2 separate regions of the Homo sapiens genome follow, and region 1 is linked to region 2. A link means that fine-mapping ties the variant in region 2 to the expression of a gene that starts in the linked region. Tissue or cell type: sun-exposed skin. Region 2 holds a variant in brackets; the other region holds the start of a gene. All regions are shown on one strand. Distances are between the middles of the regions.

The links. PIP is the estimated chance that this variant, and not a neighbour inherited with it, causes the effect.
Region 1: it holds the start of HELT, and the variant in region 2 is fine-mapped to the expression of HELT in sun-exposed skin (GTEx, PIP 0.96).

Annotation. Positions count from the first base shown.
Region 1 is chr4:185,016,947-185,019,705 of GRCh38, reverse strand. HELT (helt bHLH transcription factor) reads right to left here and starts at 1,216. Exons shown (of 4, transcript NM_001300781.2): 1 at 751-1,216; 2 at 215-319. The coding sequence starts at 777. RefSeq lists enhancers at 227-806, 807-1,385, 1,386-1,966.
Region 2 is chr4:184,996,587-184,999,345 of GRCh38, reverse strand. The region is part of intron 1 of LINC02437 (long intergenic non-protein coding RNA 2437); the gene reads right to left. Among named protein-coding and RNA genes, the nearest start is that of LINC02437, 8.6 kb to the right of the region's middle. The variant G/A (reference allele first, on the strand shown) is at 1,442.

The sequences.
Region 1 (2,759 bases), 20 kb before region 2:
GCTGGTCGGGCACTGTGGCGCTGGAGAGGACCAGCGAGCGGACGCGGCTGCGGATCTGCGCCAGAGCCTCCTGAGGTTCGCCCTGCGCTCAGGCCCCCCGCCTGGGAGGGGCCCGCAAGTGAGGTCCTCTGTGTCCGCGGGCTCGGGCGTCTCCGCAGAGTGGCCGCAGAGGCCTCCCAACGCCTGGCACCCGGCTCCGGGTCGCCAACGTTACCTGCTTCGCCAAGGCCATGGGCACTGTCTTGCCCAGCTCGTTCAAGCAGCGGTTGATCCTGTCCCTCCTCCGCTTTTCTATCACTTTATGAGAAACGGGGGTTCTCTGCGAAGAGAGGGTTGTATGTTTAGGATGGCTTTGCCCGGGAAGTCGTCAAAGGCGCGGCTCTAGCAGCTGGGTGCAAGCCGCCTCTCCAGCCGCGCACACTGCTCAGATTCGCTCTAGGAAGGGACTCCTGGCCCGCCACGCTCGGGCCAGGTGAGCTCTGCCTTCTGACGCCCGCGCTGGCGCGCTCCCCTTCCAGCCACCCTACCCAGGCCTTTGGGGAGGTGGCCGCCAGCCTCCAGGCAGGACTTCTACCTGGTTGAGCACCCTCCTCTCTCTACCCCACCCCCTTCCCAAACCACTCGAGATTCCTCCACACTCAAAGTCCCGTGCGGGCACTTCCCTGCCATCGGTCCACCCAAGTGGCGGGTCGGTGAGTCAGATGCCTCCACCACCAGGGCGCAAGTGCCATTTGGGCTCAGCCGACTCACTTTGCGTTCCTTGAGCTTGTCTGACATCCTGGTCAGTACGCGCCCTCGGGAGAGGCGGTGGCGCGGGGCACCCGTCCACTTTTCCGCCTCGTGTGCCTCCTCGAGTGTCCCAGGTAGACTGCAGCCTCCCAACTCCGAGGGCTGCCTTATAAAGCGGTCATCTAGGGCTCCAGATGCATTCACGAGTTGAATTATTCCATAGGATTAGGGGAGCTGCGTTTGGAGGATGTATGCATTCAAGATCAGTTTTAAAGAAGTTAAGAAAAAAAAAAAATTAGCAGCCGAGGGGGGCGAGCTGGGGGCAGATCAGCTTTGTTAATCCACGTGGCCCTTCAAAGGACACGTGATCGGCCCAGGAATAACATTTGCATGGCAACAGCTCGGGCGGGAAAAGGAGGCGGTAAACTGGGGCCGGCGGGCGAGCAAGCGCCTGCAGCAGTCGCGGGCGCGGAGCGCAGGGGCGCAGCGGCCGCGGGCACCGGGGGGCGAGGACCCTCACAAAACAGTGTCGCCTCTTTTAGTCCCACCGCTGAGTCTCACATGATCGCCTGTTTACAAATCCCAGCAAGCCCGCCGTCCCAGCGCCGAGTGCGTTTTAAAGCCTGTCCAGAGTCATTAAAGTAATTAAGTAAGCCTTTAATAGGCTGTTCCGCCGGGTTCAAGGGAGAGCTCTTGGAGACGGAGGCGCCCCGTTTGTTCCCAGGCTTTTCTCACACGACTTGGTGACACGTCCTTCTCCCCCCTTTTTGTTTACACCGCTTTATTTGTCCGGACATCCCGGCAGGTGTGGGGCTGCGGCTGGCACACGAGGCTCCCGCCTCGCCTCGCCTCGCCCCTCCCGCCGCTGTTTGGCACGCGACGCTCCCCCCTACTCCCTGACCACGTCGCTGGCTTTCTTTTCTCCCCACCCCTCCTGCTCCCTCTTCGCGGGGGGAAGAGGCTCAATTTGTAGCCTATTATCCTATACGAAAATGTCCATTGAAAAGTATGAATAGTTTCATTGGGCTAAATTTTAATAATGCCAGAGGGTGGGGGAGGAGAGACTGGCGGGCGTGTGTGTGTGTTTGTGTGTGAAGGGGCGGGTGGGAGGATTGGGGGGCAACACGGAGAAGAGTGGGCCGAGAAGAAAAGGGGGAATGCAGCTGGCCCAGGCAAGCATTATGCAACGTCACCTGCGAGAGGGGGCGCCTACAGACCCCTATTCATTTGCCTAATTTTGGTCAATTTAACAAACTTCAGGAGAAATTATTGTGGCTTTGTCAGGGAGGGTGAAGCCTTCTGATCGAATTAACAGCATGTTTTGATCCGGTAAATGTCATTAGAAAGGGAGAAACAATCGCGCTTAGAGGGCTCTGAGTAATGCGCCCAAGTGGAGACGCCAAAGCGCACGGCTCACAAAGGGAGCAAGTAGCTGCCACAGGGAACTTTTGTACCCGCCCATCGCCCAAGTTTTGACACAAAAAGGCATTATTTCATACTTGAATACGTTTAATCCAACGATTGTCTATTTTCTGCAAACATATTTTCACAGCATTGTTAACTTTTTATGTCTCCCTTTCGCTGGCGTCTTTTCTTAACGTTTGGGGGCGGGAGAGCGCAGACACTTTGGGCATCAATATTTGTCACTGAAAAGGGCCCTGTGAAGTTTGGGAAGTTGATCTCTTTTTTATGGTTTTAGAAAGCGAAAATATCGGGGGGAGGAGGAGGGAGGGAAGGCACGAACAGAAACGAGGGAGGAAATTTGCTGGACGGGCCCAAGGGGAAGGAGGGGGGCGGCGGCGGCTGGGAACTCTCTTGGCCGCCTGCGCCTCTGAGGGCAACCTGGCCCCGCGGCCAGAGGCCACCTCCCCCAGGACGGGCCTCGCTCACACTTGCTGCCTCGGATCCTATACTCTGGGGGCTCTGAGCTTGTGGGGTGTGGGTGGGGGGTGAGCTTTCTTGCAGATTGAAACGATAAAAATGATTTTTGTTTTATGGCCCTTTCTAGAGCCACCGAACTCTCACCTCTC
Region 2 (2,759 bases):
GATCACGTAATAACATCAGACATTAACAATAACGCCAGAAAAAAACCTCCCTTCCACTAGGAAATTCAAAAATCTTTATTTTCATATTGAAATGTTTGTAATAAGATGATAAGATATCTGGGATTTGCAGTAAGATGAACCAAAATTTGTCATATATTGATAATCATTGAGCTGTGTAATGGGTATATGGAAATCCTATATCCTATTTCTCTACTTTTGTTTATGTTTGGAATTTTCAATTTAAAAAAATTTAAAACCATTTTTATCAAATACTCTCTTTTTTTAGATGGAGTCTCACTCTGTTACCCATGCTGGGGCTGGAGTGAAGTGGTGGGATCTTGGCTCACTGCAACCTCCACCTCCCAGGTTCAAGCGATTCTCCTGTCTCAGCCTCCCAAGTAGCTGGGACTACAGGCGTGCCATCACGCCCGGCTAATTTTTGTGGTTTTAGTAGAGAGGGGGTTTTGCCATGTTGGCCAGGCTGGTCTTGAACTCCTGACCTCCAGTGATCCACCCACCTCGGCCTCCCAAAGTGCTGGGATTACAGGCGTGAGCCACCACACCCAGCCCAAATACTCTTGATATAAAGAAGATATAGATATCAAAAATTGTAAAATTTCTAGAAAACAGCAATTATGAAACCTGTAAAAAATAAGGCAGAGCTCATGGGAGATTTTAGTCTTAAGTATTTAAATCAGTCCAAAAAGGAATAATGGAAAAAAGGTGAATTAGTATCCAACTCAAAAAATTAAGAAAAGAAAAGAGTGCAACAAAATACACCAAGAAAAGAGGGGACACATTAAACACAGATAAAAGCAGATAATACTGAATTAGAAAATGGAAAAAGGTAGTGCCAAATCTAAAAGCTGGTTCTTTAGTACAAAATAAACCACTGGATGACTAGAACTAACTGGATCAGAGGCTTATTAAAATAATGCTAGAATGCATGGCTTTTTACCCAGAAATGTTTGCAGTGATTGCCCAATTAGACCATAAACTTGATTATACAGATGTTAATAGCAAAGGCAGACCCAACTCAGAATACTCATGCAGGAGGGAAAGTATTTTGAAAAAGGAATTCTGAAAAGATAAAATGAAGCAGTTGCACCATAACTGATTTTCAGTTAATTTCTGCCTAACATTGAGATGTGTCCACGGGCAGAATATTTTTCTTTCTGCTTATTATTTTGGCCTGGATGACCTCTCTTAGTTCTTGCTTCTACTTACCAGAACCAGATATAAGTAGCAAGTACAGCCTCCTGCAAGCCATGGCGTACCTCAATTTCAGCACTAAAGTATTAGGTTGGTACAAAAGTAATTGTGGTTTTTGCCATTGGGGATTATAAATCATTCTACTATAAAGACACATGCATACATATGTTTATTGCAGCACTGTTCACAATAGCAAAAACTTGGAACCAACCCAAATGCCCATCAATGA[G/A]AGACTGGATAAAGAAAATGTGGCACATATACACCATGGAATACTATGCAGCCATAAAAAAGGATGAGTTCATGTCCTTTGCAGGGACATGGATGAAGCTAGAAACCATCATTCTCAGCAAACTAACACAGGAAGAGAAAACCAAACACTGCATGTTCTCACTCATAAGTGGGAGTTGAACAATGAGAACACATGGACTCAGGGAGGGGAACATCACACACTGGGGCCTGTCAAGAGGTGGGAGGCTGGGGGAGGGAGAGCATTAGGATAAATACCAAATGTAGATGACTGGTTGATGGGTGCAGCAAACCACCATGGCACGTGTGTACCTATGTAACAAACCTGCACCTTCTGCATATGTATCCTAGAACTTAAAGTATAATAATAATGTAAAAAAACACAATTGCTTTTGCACCAAACTAATACTTTTTTTGATAAATTTCTAGCTAGCAACCTGAGGCCAGTTAATTTTGGCCTCTCATCCCCACGGTCTCCAGCCCCTTGACTGCTGTTCCCTCTCTCCTTTCTGCCTGTGCTTCCTCTCCCCAGCTCGACATGGCTCTGTTGAGGTCACCTTGCTGCATCTCGCCTCTTTCCCTCCATGGCTTGGATCTATCATCCCTTGGAAGTACTCCACCTGTGGGAGTCCATATGCCTCTCTGCCATAATCCAGTCTCTCCCAGACCTTCCAGCTCTCTCATTAAATATTCAACAAAAAATTAATGAGCACCCGGTGTGTAGGAGGGACTGTGCAAGGGACTGCGATACAGCGATGAACCACACAGGCATGGTCCCTTCTCACAAAGACCTGCACCTGGGGCAGAGCACAGTGATCCAATGATGACTTAACTAAAGGCTTAGTTACAACCAAGGCAAATGCTGTGAAGAAAGCACCACTTCACATCCCATCTCCCCCACATCCTCCAAGTCTGATGAACCACTTCCTATGTTCACTTTTGTCCTTTCTAGCCCAGACCCCACAGAACAGCAATTCCAACACTCTCTTACCAGCTCCCTCCACTCCATTGCCCTCTGTTCTTTGGCAAACCACCAAGCATGGAGTAAATTAATTTATTATTATGTATTTTGAGATAGGATCTCACTATGTTGCCCAGGCTGGATTTGAACTCCTGGGTTCAAGCAGTCCTCCTGCCTTGGCCTCCTAAGTAGCTGGGACTGCAGGTGTGAGCCACCTTACTCAGCAACATGGAGTAAATTCAGATTTACATCTTCCTTCTTTATACCAGGAACCTGAATGATGCTGATGAACCATACTTCAGCGTGAATGGGAGCCCCAGTGCTTTGACTCCAACTGCAC